3 separate regions of the Homo sapiens genome follow, and all the other regions are linked to region 1. Evidence: fine-mapped expression QTL. A gene starts in region 1. Each other region holds a variant in brackets. All regions are shown on one strand. Distances are from middle to middle. Region 1 holds the start of CAPN11 (calpain 11). Region 2 has its middle 11 kb from the start of AARS2. Region 3 has its middle 15 kb from the start of MYMX.

Region 1 (2,760 bases):
AGTTATGGCCGGGCACGGTGGCTTATGCCTATAATCCTAGCGCTTTGGGAGGCCGAAGCGAGTGATCACCTGAGGTCAGGAGTTCGAGACCAGCCTGCCCAACATGGCGAAACCCCGTCTCTACTAAAAATACAAAAATTAGCTGGGCATGGTGGTGGGCACCTGTAATCCCAGCTACTTGAGAGGCTGAGGCAGGAGAATCGCTTGAACCCGGGGGGCAGAGGTTGCAGTGAGCTGAGATTGCACCACTTCACTCCAGCCTGGGCAAAAGAGCGAGACTCCATCTCAAAAAAAAAAAAAAAAAAAAAAATCTGAAGTTATTAGTTTAAATCCTGGCTCGACCGCTTAACAGCTGTGTGACCCTGGGCAAGTTGCATCATACCTCTAGACCTCACTTTCCTCATCTATAAAATGGGAATAGCAATGTCATGGCCTCTGGCTGTTTTAAGGATTAAATAAGTAGGAAGTTCTTAGCCCAGTGTTTGGCACATAATAACAAACCATAATTAATATTCTCGTAGATGAGGAGATTGAGTCCCAGAAAGGAGAAAGGGGGAGGGCTCGCCCAAGGTCAGCTCCTGTTTCAGAGCTTGGAACAAGGTTCTCTGATCCCATTGGGTGCTCTCACACCTGTTCTGTGCCTGATTAGCACCAGGCAGGGCTGAGGGGCACTGGGATGACCTTGACAGTCCCTGTCCTCAGCCATCATACACTCCAGAGAAGACTGCACTCTGGAGCAGAGTTCTTAGCTCAAAGCATTCCCACTTTCCAGTGCAGAGGCAGGACATGTGGTCAGACCAGTGGCCTAACCTTGCCAGACTGGGGCTAGGCAAGGAGAGTGTTGCAGGTGGAATCGTGTCCCCCAAAAAGGCATGTTGAAGTCCTGGCCCCCAGTACTTCAGAATGTGACCTCATTTGGAAACAGGGTGGTTGCAGATGTAATTCGTTCAATTAAGATGAGGTCATACTGAAATGCATGGGACCCTAGCCCCATATGACTGGTGTCCTTATAAGAAGAAGAGACACAGAGGAGGGTGCCATGTGAAGACAGCAACACAGGAAAAATGCCATGTCAGTGAGAAAGGGGCTTTTGGGAATGAGAAGGCTTTCTGGATGTAAAGGTCAGGTTGGTGTGTCAGGGACAACCCCTTCCTGGAAACCTTGGGCTGAAAAAAAGGGACTGGGACCTACCCTGATGGGATGACCGTGATACAGTGAGGACAGCCAGGCTGGTGGAGGCTGTGCAAGGCAGGGGTGCTGGGTCATCTGTCCCTAAAGCGGGTAGCCCTCAGCTGGGTAAGGGGCTGGGTTACTGAGAAGGAGAAAAGGGAAGGCAGCTGTTAAACCGGCTGCTGACCTAGGAATCCCACTGCAATGAGAGAGTTCTGGGGGGAGGGTCTCTTCTCCCCCTCCCACCAGAACCTTCAACTGTCAAGCACCGAGCTAGCCACCAGCATGCTGTACTCCCCAGGTAGGCACTCATGGGGCCTTGCCCCACTCCTGTACCTCCTGCAGGCTAGAGCCTCCCCCCAGGGGAGGAGCTGTGTCCCGCATCAGACTGGGTGCCCCTTGAGGGTACAGAGAGTGACTCTTCCATCAGACTGGATGCCCCTTGAGGGTACAGAGAGTGACTCTTCCATCAGACTGGATGCTCCCTAAGGACAGGACCTGGGCCTCGTTCTCAGACTGTTTGGGGAAGGATAGGCCACTGGTGGTCAGACTGGGTGGTAGGCCGGGCAGGAACTCTTTCTCCTCTCCACTGACAGTTGGAGTTGGGGAGAGGAGAGGGGCCGGCCATCCCACTGTCATGGCTGCTGGGGAAAAGGGTTTGTGTGAAAAAGCCCACGTAGAGAAGAAAACTTTAGGGAACAGAGAGAACCTCTCCTAAGCCTAGAAAAGCAGGTCCCTCAGCCCAGGAAGATGAGATCCTCAGGGTGGCAGGGGCAGGACTACCTGAGGCAAGCCTGGGACCAGACTCCAGGAGATGGGGGAGAGTGGGCTGGGGGGAAGGGGAGGGCTGGGCAGAACTGAGTTGTTCCTGTGGGGCTAGGGTGCACAGAGGGCAGCCAGCCTTGGCCAGCAGAAGGTCAGCCCTGTACCTCACCCTCAGCCTGGGGCACCGTGAGACCATGGGCCCCTAGACCCAGCCTCCCAGCTTCTCAGGCCCTCCCTGTTTACCTGACCCTAGGAAGTTTAGGCCTAGCTGGTGACCCCAAACCCAGTCCTTGTTCTTCAGAAGTGCCCTGAGCCCAGGAGTTCAAGACCAGCCTGGTCAGCATAGCAAGACCTCATCTCAAAATATAATTTATTTATTTATTATTATTACTTATTAGTATTTATTTTTTTTTAAAGTTCCCTGACACAACATCTTAGTTTTTTCCCAGTGCCGGAAATCAAACTGTCCTTAAATCTATAGTCCCCTAATAACAATGTATTGCATTTAGAAAATCACTGAGAGAGGCCAGGCACAGTGGTTCACGCCTGTAATCCTAGCACTCTGGGAGGCCAAGGCAGGTGGATCATCTGAGGTCAGGAGTTCGAGACCAGCCTGGCCAACATAGTGAAACCGTGTCTCTACTAAAATACAAAAATTAGCCATGCGTGGTGGCGGGCGCCTGTAATCCCAGCTACTCGGGAGGCTGAGGCAGGAGAATCTCTTGAACCCAGCAAGTGGAGGTTGCAGTGAGCCGAGATCGTGCCACCGCACCCCAAGCCTGGGCGACACAGCGAGACTCCATCTCAAAAAAAAAAGAAAATCAC
Region 2 (2,760 bases), 170 kb after region 1:
CTGGTCTCAAACTCCTGACCTCAAGTGATCCACCTGCCTCGGCCTCCCGAAGTGCTGGGATTACAGGCATGAGCCACTGCGCCTGGCCTCCCTGTTTAATTTCTAATAGATATTACCCACATAGAAGCTCTTTGGGGGTTTTCAATACTTTTTAGGAGCACAACCTGAAACTAAACATCTGAAAATTTCTGCTTTACAGCAACCACTAAAAAAATCATGCAATGAGCAGCGCTATTCATTGTGGGGGAAACAACCCAAATGCCCATCAGTGGATGAATGGATAAATGGAAAGTGGTATGTGCATACAATGGAATACTAGTCAATCATAGAAAGAAATGAAATCCTGATACGTGCTACAATGGGGATGGACCTCGAAAACATTACTCTAAATGAAAGAAGCCAGACATAAAAGGGCATATGTTGTATGATTTCACTTATATGAAATGTCCAGGATAGGTAAATTCACAGAGACAGCAGATTGGTGGTTTCCAGGTGCTGAGGAAGAAGAGAATGGGAAGTGTGGCTTAATGGATACAGAGTCTTATTTCGGGATGATGAAAATGTTTTAGCTCTAGATAGAGGTGGTGGTTGCAGAACATTGTGAATGTACTAGATGCCTCTGAATTGTACACTTTAAAATGCTTATTTTAGTGTTATGTAAATTTTACCTCAATTTTAAAAAGTGCAACAAAATATCATTACAAATTTAACTTTTAATTTGATTTATTTATTTTTGAGACAAGGTCTTGTTCTGTTACCCATCTGGAGTACAGTGGTACACTCACAGCTCACTGCAGCCTTGACCTCCCAGGCTCAAGCAATCCTCGTACTTCAGCCTCCCTAGTAGCTGGGACTACAGGTGCGTGCCACCATGCCCAGGTAATTTTTGTGTTTTTGGTAAAGGCAGGATTTCACCATGTTGCCTAGGCTGGTCTTGAACTCCTGGGCTCAAGCAATCTGTCCGCCTCAGCTTCCCAAAGTGCTGGGATTACAAGTGTGAGCCACTGTCCCTGGCCAAAAGATCATTAAAAATTAATAGAGAAGGTGGCTCAATAGAACGCTGGCTCAAACCTGTAATCCTAGCACTTTGTGAGGCAGAGACAGGTGGATCACTTGAGGTCAGGAGTTCAAAACCAGCTTGGCCATCATGGTGAAATCCCGTTTCTACTAAAAATACAAAAAATTAGCTGGGCATGGTGGTGTGCACCTGTAATCCCTGCTACTTGGGAGGCTGAGGCAGGAGAATTGCTTGAACCCGGGAGGCAGAGGTTGCTGTGAGCTGAGATCGTGCCACCGCACTCCAACCTGGGTGACAGAGCGAGACTCCATCTCAAAAAAAAAAAAAAATTAATAGAGAAGTTAAAATTGAATTACAAAAATTACTTAGTTAACTCAAAAAAAAGTTACAAATGGAGGAACAGAGTAACTAAAAACATATAGAACAAACAGAAAATGAATAGCAAAATGGTGGCAGTAAACCTAACCATATCAAGAATAATATTACCCATGACCTAGCAATTCCTCTTCTAAGTATTTCACCAAAAGAAATGAAAAGAGCTATCTTCAAAAAGACTAGTATGTGGACGTTCATAGCAACTTTACTTGTAATAACCAAGAACTTG[A/G]AGCGGTCCAGGTGTCCATCAACAAAGGAATGGATAAACAAACTGTGATATATTCATACAATGAACTACAACTCAGCAATATAAGAACAAACCAGTGATATACACACAATATACATGAATCTAAAAAGATGCTCAGTGAAAGAAGCCTTACACAAAAGAGTACATACTTAATGATTTCATTTTTGTGAAGTTGTAGAAGTTATAGAACAGGCAAACATCTTTTTTTTTTTTTCTGAGACAGGGTCTTGCTCTGTCGCCCAGGCTGGAGTGCAGTGGTGTGATCTCAGCTCACTGCAACTTCTACCTCCTGGGTCCATGCGATCATCCCTCCTCCGTCTCCCAAGTAGCTGGGACTACAGGTGCACACCACCAATGCCCGGCTAATTTTTGTATTTTTTTAGAGATGGGGTTTTGTCATGTTGTCCAGGCTGGTCTCAAACTCCTGGGCTAAAGCAATCTACTCACCTTGGCCTCTCAAAGTGCTGGGATTACAGGTGTGAGCCACTGAGACTGGCCCAAACATCTATTTTTAAAAATCTAATTATTATTATTACTATTATTATTTTAGAGATGGGCTCTCACTTGGTCTCCCAGGCAAGAGGGCAGTGGCACTATTGTGGCTCACTGCAGCCTCGAACTCTGGGCTCAAGAAATCCTCCCACCCCAGCCTCTGGAGTAGCTGAAATTACAGGTGAGCACCACCACACCAGGCTAATTTTTAAATTTTCTGTGGAGGCAGAGTCTTGCTATGTTGCCTAGGTAGGTCTCCAACTCCTGGACTCAAACAATCTTGCTGCCTTGGCCTACCAAAGTACTGGGACTATAGGCATAAGCCACCTTGTCTGGTCAAGAGTGTGTACTTAATGATTCAATTTTTATGAAATTATAGGACAGGTAAACATCTATTTTTTATTTTTTTATTTTATTAATTTTATTTCATTTTACTTTGAGATGGAGTCTTGCTCTGTTGCCCAGATTGGAGTGCAGTGGCTCGATCTCGGCTCACTGCAGCCTCTGCCTCCTGGGTTCCAGCAATCCTCCTGCCTCGGCCTCCTGAATAGCTGGGATTGCAGGTACGCACCACCATGCCCAGCTAATTTTTGTATTTTTAGTACAGATGGGGTTTCACCCTGTTGGC
Region 3 (2,760 bases), 43 kb after region 1:
TTCTCCTGTCTCAGCCTCCCAAGTAGCTGGGACTACAGGCGCCTGCCACCACACCTGGCTAATTTTTGCATTTTTAGTAGAGATGGTGTTTTACCTTGTTGGTCAGGCTGGTCTCAAATTCCTGACCTCAGGTGATCCATCTGCCTCAGCCTCCCAAAGTGCTGGGATTACAGGCGTGAGCCATCGCGCCTGGCCATCAGGTTTTTATTAGATTTTTTTCCCTGTGGCATTGTGGTTTTTGCTGCTCTCCCTCCCCACATCAGATATGCTAGGCATGTCCTTCCTTACCTTCTCCTCAAGCTCCTCTGTCCACCCTCATCCCTCTCACTGTCCAGGAAACAGCTGTCTCCTGCCCCAACAACTGACTGTTCCCTCTGAGGCATTGCCAGAGAGGGTAGGGCCCCCACCTCCCACCCTCAGGGTCCTGTCAGCTGAGTGGGGGGTGGGGGGCAGTGGGCAACAGCTGTTGCAGTGGGGACAATGGCTGTATTCTATACAAGCTCCTTTCCTGGGCCACCTCCTCCTCCCTGGCTAGAACAACTGTTCTTGTGGATTGGGGAGTCCCATCTGTCTGTGCTAGCTACTCTTTCAGGCAACCTCCAACTCCCTGGCCCATTTTGCTCATGTCTTACAGGCATATCCAGTGTGTGTCCCACTGCCCGGTCGCCTGTGCATGGGTCTATCATTGCCTGGAATTGGTGGGCAGAGGAATGATGGTCATGGATAAGGGACCATCCCTCCAAAGCGCATCACCTCTTCTTTCAGTGGTCACATTCAGGCCCTAGCTCCTCACTCAGGTAGGTGGTTTCTGGCCTGTTGTCCCAGGCAGAAAGGCACTGTGATTATGACAGGGCTGAGCTCCCAGTTCCTGGGCTAGAACTCCGCCCATTCCCCACCCACACTGCCTATACCTGGCTGGCTCTGGTTCCTGGCCCCAAGGTCTCCCCACCTGCTCCTTGGTAACATCACCCCTTGACACACCCTGCCCTTGATGAGGCCTCCCTGGCTCCTTGTCAGAACTCCTTGTTTAGGGGTCAGAGCTGTCCTCAACCTCCCACAAACAGGAAGGGCCCCACACCAATGCTGATTTCCCAGAGGACAACAGGCCAGTGAAACATGACAGAGCGAGGGGCCACAGCCTCCGCAGGCCTCCCTTGATTCTTCAAGCATTAACAGAGCCCCAGCCTCTGATCTAAGTGCTGCCCATGAGCAGCAGGGTGCCTTGCATCAGGCCTCCAAGGAGCAGCAAGTTCTCTGCTGGCCTCTGACATAAGGGTGGAAGGAAGGAAACTAATATTTATGAGACACCTACCTGGTAGCCAAACTCTGAGCCTCACATTCTCCTCATCTCTTTATCTGGTCAGCTGTAGGTATTATTATAATTCCCATTTTAGGGAGGGGGACCACCCCATAGCACAGCTCCGGAAGGTGCCACTCTCAACTCCCGCTGTGCAATATACAGCCTGCTCTGGCATCCAGAGGGGCCCTGAGAGAGGGTCCCAGAGCCAGCATGTGGTTCCAGAGCGACCAACTCAGAAGCACCTCCAGCCAACTTCACGAGCTGGGACCCAGACA[CAT/C]GTTTTTAATGCAAGTCATGCGGAGGCAGTGGCCTGTCGCAGCATGCTCTTGAGCGCCTGGGTGGAGACATGCAGAAGGGGTGGGAAGAGCAGGACTCTCGGTGCCCGTGGGTCTGGCAAGAACCCATTAGCTCTAGTGCAACTCTTGCTATCATTCCTGCTTTCCCCATCTGCTGTCTGTCACTCTGGTGGCTCTTGGTGTGTCTGTCCTCTTCACCATTGACCCAGAGCCTTGCACGGGCTTTCACACAGTTGGCACACAATGTATGTTGTCATGTCTGGCCCGATTAACTGATGCCTGTGTATGGGCATCATCCAGAATGTTTCTGGATGGCCCTGGGCATCTGGGGAGTGGACCACAAAGGCAGATCCCAGGGGCCACTTAGTGCCAGCCCACAGTCCTCACCTTCACAGGTTGGTATCCAGATACTATTTTTTTTTTTTTTCAATTGACCTTAAGGAAACAGGAGATTTGGTCAGTTTCCTCAAAGTTGCCTGCAGAGCATGGGAGGCAGAGGTCAGGGAAGTGCAGGAAGGATCCATGACACAAGGCTAAACTGGGAACTGGAAGAAACTGCTCCCTGGCGGCTTTGTTCCTGACGAAGATGGTTATTTTTCCAGGAATGCTGAGGAAATCCACAGCAGCTTTAGTGTTCCCGCCTTGGAGAAAATGTCTGGGGCAGGCAAGGGAGGTGGGGTGGAGCTAATGGAAGTGAGGATGGGAAGGTGGTGGAGAGGGCAGTTAATCCCAGGAAGAGTCAGGGGTTAGAGAGTAAACTAAGACTAGATCCATTCCTTGGAGCCAGCCACTGCCCCTCCCCCACCTCCCTGCCCAAACCCCTCTGGAGTTCCCCATTGTTCCCAGAGACAATAGCTAGTTTCCTTTACCTGCCTCATCATCCCAGGCCCAGGAATCTCTCACTCTGTTTACAAGAGGCAGCGGTGGGGTAGGAGTATCTGGGCCTTACCCCAGGGTCCAAGGATCTCACCGCTGGAAGATCCCACAGCTATGGAAACTGAGGCTGGGAGGAGTGGGATGTGACTTAGCCAAGGTCACAGCAACCACAGATGTGGGCCAGTGCTTGGTGGGGCCTCCACGGTTCCCCGTGGAGTACGCACTTTGGTGGTTCTCAGAGGGAGCCATCAGGGCCTGCCGTTCCTCCCCTCGAGACTCTCTCCAGCT

The links. PIP is the estimated chance that this variant, and not a neighbour inherited with it, causes the effect. A credible set is the group of variants that fine-mapping cannot tell apart.
Region 2: its variant is the best candidate, but not a certain one, in a credible set for the expression of CAPN11 in unexposed skin (GTEx, PIP 0.81).
Region 3: its variant is the best candidate, but not a certain one, in a credible set for the expression of CAPN11 in skin (TwinsUK, PIP 0.70).

What each region holds. Positions count from the first base shown.
Region 1 is chr6:44,157,394-44,160,153 of GRCh38, forward strand. It overlaps CAPN11 (calpain 11), which reads left to right and starts at 1,427. Exons shown (of 23, transcript NM_007058.4): 1 at 1,427-1,471. The coding sequence starts at 1,456. It overlaps LOC107986599 (a long non-coding RNA gene), which reads right to left and starts at 1,210. Exons shown (of 3, transcript XR_002956350.2): 1 at 1,192-1,210. RefSeq lists an enhancer at 2,604-2,760.
Region 2 is chr6:44,322,543-44,325,302 of GRCh38, forward strand. No RefSeq gene overlaps it. Among named protein-coding and RNA genes, the nearest start is that of AARS2, 11 kb to the left of the region's middle. The variant A/G (reference allele first, on the strand shown) is at 1,623.
Region 3 is chr6:44,200,420-44,203,179 of GRCh38, forward strand. It overlaps a transcript of MYMX not described here. Among named protein-coding and RNA genes, the nearest start is that of MYMX, 15 kb to the right of the region's middle. RefSeq lists enhancers at 134-1,134, 1,135-2,134, 2,135-2,760. The variant CAT/C (reference allele first, on the strand shown) is at 1,576.